2 separate regions of the Homo sapiens genome follow, and region 2 is linked to region 1. The links come from fine-mapping of genetic effects on gene expression. A gene starts in region 1. The other region holds a variant in brackets. All regions are shown on one strand. Distances are between the middles of the regions. Region 1 holds the start of KLF8 (KLF transcription factor 8). Region 2 holds the start of LOC124905193 (a long non-coding RNA gene).

Evidence for each region. PIP is the estimated chance that this variant, and not a neighbour inherited with it, causes the effect. A credible set is the group of variants that fine-mapping cannot tell apart.
Region 2: its variant is the best candidate, but not a certain one, in a credible set for the expression of KLF8 in whole blood (TOPMed, PIP 0.53).

What each region holds. Positions count from the first base shown.
Region 1 is chrX:56,229,175-56,234,554 of GRCh38, reverse strand. KLF8 (KLF transcription factor 8) reads right to left here and starts at 2,199. Exons shown (of 6, transcript NM_007250.5): 1 at 1,214-2,199. The coding sequence starts at 1,220.
Region 2 is chrX:56,028,176-56,033,555 of GRCh38, reverse strand. It overlaps LOC124905193 (a long non-coding RNA gene), which reads left to right and starts at 1,930. Exons shown (of 3, transcript XR_007068247.1): 1 at 1,930-2,103; 2 at 4,814-5,095. It also overlaps a transcript of KLF8 not described here. The variant C/T (reference allele first, on the strand shown) is at 2,314.

The sequences.
Region 1 (5,380 bases):
CTTCCTAAGTTTCGTTTTACCACATCTGGAAGGTGTTTTAAGGACAGAAAAACACTAATTTTATCAGCAGTGGTCCAGAAAAATAGTTCCAAACTGAGTAGAAAAGGGAAGTTGAACTAAGATACAAGTGGCAGCCTCTGCCACATACACAAGATATTTCATCCACCCGAGTATCTACTGAGATAGAATTATTAATCTGCATTCTATGGAAGAGAAAAGCAAGGCCCAGGGTGATGCAGCTAATAAGTGGTGATACTAGGGTTTCAAAGCAGATTACCCCAAACCATGGCAATCTCCATCAGTTTCAAATCCAAATTTAAAGATTATTCTTTTTGCTCAATTATTACCACACTGGGTGACAGGTGCTTAATAAATGCGTTTCTTCACGATGAATATAATACCAAAAGAAATAAGACATGGTGCCTTTGGCCACCTGTTTGGATGTGATTTATTTTTTCCCAAATTCTTAGGGTTAAAAAAAAAAGCCCACAAAAAGACAGCTCCGCCAAGTGGCTAAACAAATGGATTCACTTCAGCAATCACAGCAACTCGGCCCAGTCAGTCTTCCACCTACACAGACGAACCAACTGCCTTGGCCACGTCTTAAAGGGCCGGAGCAGAGCCTAGGCTCTGGCTTCCTTCTCCAACCAAGCTCAGCCCCTCCTTAAAGAGCTGGCACGCCCAAAGCAGCTCCTCCCCCGCAGCTGCTTCCAGGCCTCACTCTGTGCCTCCAATAGCCTAACTTTGCACCTTAAACCACTGTCCCCTCCTCCTTCTTTTCAGAAGCTTCTCTAGGTACCCGCTATGGCTTCAGGGGGTTACCTGGGAGCTTTGGCCTTGTGAATCCTGTTCTCTCTGGTTGTGACTTTGGCTGTGTGGGGTTAAGTCAAAGACAATCCTTACCGCTTAAGGAGTATTGGGAGTGCCGAGCCAGGGGAGACTAGACTAGACAAATCCATCCATTCTTGCCCCCTTTCACTTCTTCCACCAAGCTCTCTCCTCTCCTTCTTGGCCTTTCTTTGCCCAGCCCTTTAGCAAAGTCATTTTCCCTTGAGTTTCATTTGATTCCACATAGTGTTCTTAACCTTCCGCTCCCGCCCCCACTGCTGAAACCCCAAGTGGGGTGTGTGGGGGGAGCAGGGGGACTGGGAGGGGGATAGAATCTAGACGAAAGAGGTGGGAGTGGGTGGGTATTAGTCCCAGAGTCACTTACCGACCATGTCACTAGCTGAGGACTCCTGAAGTGTCCAGAACTCATGCCGTCCTCCGGGAGGCTCATACTCCTGAGCTGATCGCAAGAGAGCTGTTCCCCTCACACCCGCCCCATTCTGACATAGCGCAGGGCGACGCGTTCTCGTCTTCTCGTTCTTGGGCCCCCACTCCCCTATTTCTCCGGGCTGGAAAATGAGGAGGGGGTCGAAAGGGGAGGGAGTCGATTCAGACCCAGCTGGGCCACTCTCGGAACAAGGGAAACAAAGCTCTCAAGCATCCAACCCAAAAATCAGGGGCCGGCAGAGTAGACTTCCTAAAAAGAATCCTCCCCCCTGCAGCTTTTCCTTGGACAAAAATAAAGTGGGTTCGCTGGGCCGAAGTGGCCAGAGCTTAAGGTCCTCCGTTCCCCTTTTACCTCTACCAATTCAGTTCCGGCCAAGCCCGCTCTCCACCCATCCTCTGAACTCCACACACCCTTTAAAAGGAGAGGGCCGGGGGTGGGGGCTATGAAAACCAACCCAACCCCCAAAGCGCTACTTGAACATAAAGTTGAGGCGGAGAAGAAATCCTTCAAGACAGGAACCCACGAGGAGATACCACAAGAGGATCCCTTCACCGCCGCCGTTGCCGCCGCACACCCCAGCGCCTTCCTAAAAAGAAAGAAGGGAGGAAAAAAATGCCGACGATTGGTAGAATCATAGAGAAGAACACCAGCCCCAGGGCAGGGGCTTCAGCGAAAAATGGCAGCAACTCGTGCGGGTCCTCTGGGGCGGGGTTTCTTGGAGGCACCTAGCTGCCCCACGGGGTACCTCGCGCCCCACGCGAGTCAGAACCTAAAGTGCTCTCTGGGCAACCTGAGTGGGTAGAGTGATTCCGTCTTTCTCTGGCCCTGCTAGGCCCAAAGGAGAGGTGTGACTATCGTGAGGACTCCACCTAGGGTGGAGTTCCTTAAAAAGGACAGGCGGCCGCTAGAGGAGAGTGCAAAGTGGGAGGAGGTGGAGAAGGGTGGGGCTGAGAAGGAGGAGGGAGGAAGGAGGGGGTGGGGCGGGGCCCTGGGCCGACAGAGCTGGCCTCGCCTCCGGCGGCCGCCTCCCTCAGCCTCCAGCAGCGGCAGGTATAATTCCAATCAATTTCACTTCCTTATCTGTCCCAAAATTAAGGCTTGCAAGCACACTGCTTGATTACCTATTTACTCCGGTTATGCTAATTCTCCAGGGGAGGGTGGTGAAACGGGTACTGGGATTGGGGCTGGGGGCTGTCTAAGAGGGAAAGGAGAAAACAAAAAAGCTGACAACTGGAAGCGATATTTATCCTCCTACCTCTCCATGGTAACACGAACAAGGACAGCGAGGTCACAGTGTCTTCTCAGGGAGGAAGCTAAAAGGAACGGAGATTGGAGCTTGGTGCATTTTCTAGCAAGAGATAAGCCAAGGAGGTGAGGGCGAAGGAGTAGGTGGGGAAGAAGAAGGAGTTGAAGATGATCTGTGAATACAGCGTGGCCCAGCAGGGAGACTTAAGAAAGGCTTTCTCAGTCTCCCAGATACCAGACCTCTAAGAATAGAGTTCTCAACCCCCTGAGACCGCCTCTCAGCCAGGCATTGGCGAAGATCCCCGTAAAGCTGAATCCACAGGATAGGAGCCATGTTTCCAGGATTTCTTTACGCTTGCCTGAAAGTCTCTCTCTAGCTCATTTTAATGGGAGGCCAGGAAGTCACAAGCAACCACAGCCCATTTTCAGTGCCTCTTCCCTACCACAATTCTTTTAAAGAGGAGGAAAAAGAAGAGAGACAAGAAACAAAGCAGAGGGAGGAAGAGCAAAGAGACAGGAGAAATAATAATATCTGCCATGTATTCAGCACCTAATATGGGCAAGTCCCTGAGCCAGGTGCTTTTACATTCAACATTTCCCCATTTAGTCCCAATAACAACCCTGGGAACTAGGTACTGTTATATTCTCTGTGCCCTTTATTTAAAAAAATAAGGAAACGGAAGGCCTCAGCCCAGTACTTTCGAACACATAGGTCTACTTACTTAGTTGATATTTCTGCCTGAATGTCTTCTGTGCATCTCATCTACCTTCCTTTCCCCAAAACACTCTGTTCTTCCTCCTGTAGTTCACCAACTACCTGAATGGCACCACCATACATCCAAGGCAGCACCCTGGAACTCATCCTTTAACCTGCTGTGATCTGGCCTTTGTCTGCCTCTCAAGCAGCAGAGATTTTGCTGTTCTCCTGGGCTTTACCTGGATTACAAATCCCTGGGAATTCCAAGCTGTTTCCAATCTCTATGCCTTGGGTTGCTTTACTTTCTCTGACTGAAATAGACTAAGCTCTCTGTCCACCTTTTTTTTTCTTGCATGTCCTTCCAATGAATCTGTCCACTTTCTTGAAAGGACTAACTCAAGGTCATCTCCCCTCCTTACTTAATTTCTTCAGGCAAAACTGACCATTGCTTCCTCTGTGCCCTTCTCTACCTCGGGGCACATATTTGTTGGTATAATTGCCTCCCCCTACTAAACTATAAAGTCCTTGAGCTGAAGCACCAGGCGATCTCATTTCTGTAACTTGGATGCCAAGTTATATTATTATTAACAATAATAATAGTTATTGAGCATTAACTATGTACTAAACTCTGTTGTAAGCCTCTTATGTATATTAACTCATTGAATCCTTCTGACAATCCTATGGGTAGACATTGCTATCCCCATTTTACAGATGTGGAAACTTAGTGACAGGTTAAATAAATACACATGCATATGTATTTGTTTCATAAAAGAATGTCCCTGTAGTAGGGGTTTCATAAATAACTCTCTATCTCACTATATCTCTTCACCACGACCTGCACCCCTGCCAAGCTTACAAGGTAAGATATATTGAGATGGAATCATACAGAGAAGTGTACAACTCTCTATGCCTTCATTTAAAAAATTTACTTTATTCCTTGGAGGCTTTGTTTCTCAATGTATAAAATTTGGGGAGTATTATCCAATATAGGATTCTTACCACTACAGCACTGTTTTGAGCAATGCTGAAAAGTTTTCTCTTAGATTCAAGTGTGTGAAAGACATTAAGCAGTTTATATCAATAATAAATGCATTTTTGTGATGTGCAGATGAAAATGAGTAGATTGCTGAAGTAACATTTTGAAAAGAGTAGCCACTACTAGCCCTGAATACAGTGGGTGTGCCTTAAGGTCATCGAGTTACTTTTTCAGTCTGAAATAGCTTTTCAAGAAGGTCGATCCATACACAGATAGCTTAACAGTTTATATTTTATTAAAAGTCTTTATTGTTGACAAATTTATTTTAAGCTCTAGCTTTTTGTTTGTTTTAGAAATACTGCCTCAACTTTATTTGTGGGGAAAACTTAGACCTTAGATGGCAAATTCAGTTTTTGGAAAACTTGAAGTTATTGAAACTTGGAAAAACAAACCCAAGATCCTTTCCCATCTGTTCTTTCATCTATTCAGTCAATAAAATGTATTGAGCACCTGTGCTTTATCAAGAACAATGCTAGGTGTTGGGGGGCGGTGGAATGAGAACATCCATTCTAAGAGGCTCCAGTGGATGAACCCTCAATTTCACTGTACGCACACAGCCTATTAGTCCACATTTCCCCTTCAAGTCCTTTAGAGATGGCCTCTGTCTCACTCAAATTAGGACCCAAAGATGGTTCACAGGGAACTATGAAACCCATGACCACAGTTAATGTCAAAGGCAGGAGTTTGCCTTTATATTCTTTTACTCTTGACACATAGAAATAATCAGCATGTGGTTGGTGTTGTCTATGTCACACGAAAGGGTGTGAGGGAGCAGGTATGGGGAACTAGAAGTTTTGATAAATTTCCCTGTCCGTCTAGGAAACACCTCAGGCTCTCCTTTCTTTAGCTGGCTAGAATAAACATGAACCAAATAGCAACCTGCGATATTTTCAACTCCTTCCATCCCACCTTATGCGTGAGGGAGACTGCTTGAAGAAGCAGCCTGTGCTTTCCTCTATATATCCAAGTAATCAGATGAGGAGTGTTAAATTAAGTGTGGAACCTAATGAAAAGCAGCTGAGAAATATGCAGACACGATTCTGGGCCCACATATGCTGTTCTTCCCTTCTTCTCTTTCTCCTCTTCATCATCCCGCTTCTCCTCCTCCTGAAAGCCAGCTGACAAA
Region 2 (5,380 bases), 200 kb after region 1:
TATGATCCAGAAATCCCACTTCTGTGTATATATCAAAAGGATTTAAAATTAGTATGTAGAAGGGATGTCTGCACTCCTATATTCATTGCATCATTTTTCAAAATAGCCAGCATATAAAATCAATCTAAGTGCCCATCAAAAAAAATTGATAAAGAAAATGCAGTATGTATACACAATGGAGTAACAGCCCTGAAAAGGAAAAAAATCCTGTCATTTGCGACACCGTGGATAAAACTGGAGGACATTATGCTAAGTGAAATATGCCAGCCACATAAAGAAAAATACTGAATAATCTCACTTTTATTTTGAATATAAAATAATCTAAATCAAAGAAATAGAGAGTAGAATGGTGGCTATCAGAGGTTGGGTTGGGGAATGGGGAGATGTTGCTAAGAAGGTACAGGTTTAAGTTAGATAGGAAGAATACATGATAAGTATTTGAGGAGATGGATATGTCACTTTTCTTAGTTCAATCATACTGCATTATATATCTATATCATATGTTCCTCATAAATATATAGAATTATTATTTGTTAATGTATTATAAAATTTAAAAACACAAATGGTGGCAAGGATGTGGAGCAATGAAGTTCTAATACATTGTTGGTAGGACTGAGAAATTTTAAAGCCAGTCTGGAAAACAGTTTGGCAGTTGGTAGTAAAGTTGAACATTTACTTAACATAATCCCTAGTAATTCCACTCTTAGGTATTTACCCATCCCAAAATACAAACACAAATCTGTCCACAGGAAAATCTGTCTGCAAATGTTTAAAACAGCTTTATTCATAGTCACTAAATATTGGAAACTACTGAAGTGTCCATCTATAGATAAATGGATAAACAAATTGCTATATTCATACAATAGAAAACTACTGAACAACAACAATAAAGAATTACTGACATGCACAACAACACAGATGAATCTTGAGAAAAATGTTGAGTAAAAGAAGCAAGAATCAAAAGGCTATAAACTTATAATTTCACTTATATAACAGTTTATAATGAACAAAATTGCAGTGAAAGAGATCTTATCAGTAGTTGATAAAGGCTGGGAATTAGAGGGAGGAGTTGATTACAAAAGAGCACAAGGGAGCCTTTTCAGGTGACAGAAACATTATTTATCTTGATTATAGTGGTGGTTACAGAATGGTATACATTGCCAAATTTCAAAGAACTGTAGATGTAAAAAGAATAAATTTTACTAAATATAAATTATACCTCAATAAAAAAATGAAAGACTTGAGGCATATACAACAAAAACCAAATAAAACAAATATTTAAGGGCCAGGAATGGTGGCTCATGCCTGTAATCACCAGCACTTTGGGAGGCCAAGGTGAGAGAAGAGAAAAAGAGACCCCTCATATTGTTTTATATTGTTTTATACTCGGTACCTGTTTTAAGAAGAAACAAGGAAGTGGAAACCAAAGGCAGGCAGCCCGGCGCCAGGCACCAGACCCAAAACCAGACCCAAAACCAGGTCTGGGCCTTCGTGACCTAACCTGGTAGTTAAAATTCAACCCATGACCTAGCAACCGATGTTATCCATAGATTCCAGACATTGTATGGAAGGACATTGTGAAACTTCTCCTTCTGTTCTGTTTCACTCTGATTACTGGTGCATGAAGCCCCTGTCACATACCCCCTAGATCGCTCGATCGATCACGGCCCTTTCATGTAAAATCTTTAACGTTGTGAGCCCTTAAAAGGGACAGAAATTGTGCACTCGGGGAGCTCGGATTTTGAGACATTAGTCTGCCGATCCTTCCAGCTGATTAAAGCCACTACCTTCACTACCTCGGTGTCTGTGGGGTTTTGTCCGCAGCTCGTCCTGCTACATTTCTTGGTTCGCTGACTGGGAAACGAGGTGACTGATGGACAGCCGAGGCAGCCCCTTAGGCAGCTTAGGCCTGCCCTGTGGAGCATCCCTGCAGAGGACTCCAGCCTACCCGAGCGACATGATCCAAAGAGCGCTCCCGGGTAGGCAATTGGCCCGGTGGAACGCCTCACCAGAGCAGTGTGTGGCAAGCCCCCATGGAGGACCAAAGCAGTGGCTGAACACAGGGAAGGAAATGGCACTTGGAGTCCAGACATCTGAAACTTGGTAAGAATAGTCTTTGAAACTTGCCCACTCCATCTGAGTGGAAGCATGGCCTGACCACCCACAGCATGCCTGTATCGGCACTTTTGTTCTGGTTTTGACTTGACTTGAATTGCTTGATACTTTGGTTTTGGTTTTGACTTGGCTTAAATTTCTTGATACTCTGATTTTGGTTTGGTATAAACGATAAAGGTGTGTGTGTGCCCTCTTTAC[C/T]TGTTCTTTGTTTTGTGGTAAGTGTGTGGTGTGAGCATGATATTTTGTCTTGAGAAAACATGGGTCAGGCACAAAGTAAGCCCACCCCATTGGGAACTATGTTAAAGAATTTCAAGAAAGGATTCAAAGGAGACTATGGAGTTACTATGACTCCAGGAAAACTTAGAACTTTGTGTGAAATAGATTGGCCAGAATTAGAGGTAGGTTGGCCATCAGAAGGAAGCCTGGAGAGGTCTCTTGTTTCAAAGGTATGGCACAAAGTAACTGGCAAGCCAGGACACCCAGATCAGTTCCCATATATAGATTCCTGGTTACAGCTAGTTTTAGATCCCCCACAGTGGTTAACAGGACAGGCAGCAGCAGTACTAGTAGCAAAGGGACAGTTAGTTAAGGAAGGTCCTCACTCCACCCGCTGACAGAAGCCAGCCCCTAAAGTTCTGTCTGACCCAGAGCCCAAAGACTCATGGCAGGAGATGGCACCAACAGTGCCCCTCCCTTACCAAGCAGAGAGGCCCCCTAATCCTGAGCTCACAGCCCCTAGACCACCCAGAGTAGACAAGAAAGGAAGTGAAGCTGCAGGAGAAACTCCTCCCTTGGTGGCTCGCTTACAGCCCAAGACTGGAACACAAATGCCCCTGAGAGAGCAGCAATATACTGGGATAGATGAGGATGGACACATGATGGAAAGGCGTGCCTTTGTGTATCACCCTTTCACTTCTGCTGACTTCCTCAATTGGAAAAATAATACTCCATCTTACACTGAAAAGCCTCAAGCTCTAATTGACTTGCTCCAAACTATTATACAGACTCATAATACTACTTGGGCTGATTCCCACCAGCTACTCATGTACCTCTTTAACACAGATGAAAAGCGAAGGGTGCTCCAGGCAGCAACTAAATGGCTAGAGGAGCATGTCCCAGCCGATTACCAAAATCCCCAGGAATACATAAGAATTCAGCTGCCAGGAATGGACCCTCAATGGGATCTGAATGAAGGACCAGATATGGAGAGGCTAAGACAATACCAGGAGGCATTAATTGAAGGTCTGAAAAAAAGGGGCTCAAAAGGCCACCAACGTAAATAAAGTTTCTGAAGTCATCCAAGGAAAGGAGGAAAGCCCAGCCCAATTCTATGAAAGACTGTGTGAGGCCTATCATATGTACATTCCTTTCAATCCAGATAGTCCTGAAAATCAGCATATGATTAACATGGCCTTAGTTAGTCAAAGTGCAGAAGATATCCAAAGGAAATTACAAAAACAGGCTGGTTTTGCAGGAATGAATATCTCGCAGTTACTGGAGATAGCTAATCAAATATTTGTAAACAGTGATGCAACAAGCCGCAGAGAAAGCCATAAGGAGGGAGAACGCCAGGCCAGGTGGAACGCTGATTTGCTGGCTGTGGCAATTAGGGGAATCCCCACGAAGGGACAGGGAAAGGGGTGTTCTGGGAGGAATGCCCAGTCCAATCGCTCACGTCTGCAGCGTAACCAATGTGCCTACTGTAAAGAAATAGGACATTGGAAAGATAAATGTCCCCAACTAAAAGAGAAGCAAGGTGATGCAGAGCAAAAAGACCATAGAAAAAGACGAAGGGACTTTGTTTAATCTGGCCGAAGGGCTTCTAGACTGAAGGGGATCGAGCTCAAATGCCCCCAAGGAGCCCATGGTCAGGATGACAATAGGGGTCAAGGACATTAAGTTTTTGGTCAATACCGTGCTGAACACTCAGTAGTAACCACCCCAGTGGCCCCCTTATCTAAGAAAACCGCTGATATAATAGGAGCAAGAGTCTCCACCAAGCAGGTTTTCTACCTACCGTGGACCTGCTTGGATAGAAGGACATAAAGTGACTCATCAATTTCTGTATATGCCTGACTGCCCCTTGCCTTTGTTAGGCAGAGACTTGCTTAGCAAGCTGAGAGCCACCATTTCCTTTACAAAACAGGGCTCTTTATAGCTGAAGTTACCGGGAACAGGAGTTATCATGGTCCTTATGGTCCCCTGAGAAGAATGGAGCCTTTTTCTAACCGAGCCAGGTCAGGAGATAAAACCGGCACTAGCTAAGCAATGGCCCCGAGTATTGGTGGAGGACAATCCTCCAGGGCTGGTGATCAATCAAGCCCCTGTACTCATAGAAGTTAAGCCTGGGGCCCAGCCAATCAGACAAAAGCAGTATCCGGTTCCCAGGGAAGCTCTTGAAGGAATACAGGCACATTTTAGACACTTGAAAGCTTTTGGAATTATAGTTCCTTGCCAGTCTCCATGGAACACCCCCCTCCTACCTGTCCCCAAGCCAGGGACCAAGGACTATCGGCCCGTACAGGACTTATGCTTGGTTAACCAAGCTACTGTGACTCTGCACCCAACAGTTCCTAACACTTACACATTGTTAGGATTGCTGCTGGCTGAGGATGGCTGGTTCACTTGCCTGGACTTGAAGGGTGCCTTCTTTAGCATTAGACTAGCTCCTGAGAACCAAAAACTGTTTGCCTTTCAGTAGGAAGACCCGGGGTCAGGTGTCACCACACAGTACACTTGGACTCAGCTTCCCCAAGGGTTCAAAAATTCCCGCATCATCTTCAGGGAGGCGTTGGCTCGAGACATCCAGAAGTTTCCTGCTAAAGACCTAGGCTGCGTCTTGCTCCAGTACGTGGACGACCTTCTGCTAGGACACTCCACAGCAGTCGGGTGTGCAAAAGGGATGGATGCCCTACTTTGGCACCTGGAGGACTGTGGATATAAGGTGTCCAAGAAGAAAGCTCAGATTTGCAGACAGCAGGTATGCTACCTGGGATTCACTATTCAGAAAGGGGAGCACAGCCTGGGGTCAGAAAGAAAGCAGGTCATCTGCAGCCTACCAGAACATAAAACCAGAAGGCAAGTAAGGGAATTTCTAGGAGCTGTGGGTTTTGCAGATTATGGATTCCAAACTTTGCGTGCTAGCCAAACTGTTGTATGGGGTTACAAAGGGGGGCGACTGAGAGCCCTTTGAATGGGGGCCTCTACAACAGCAAGACTTTTGTAAGTTAAAAGAAAAACTTATGTCAGTCCCAGCTCTGGGACT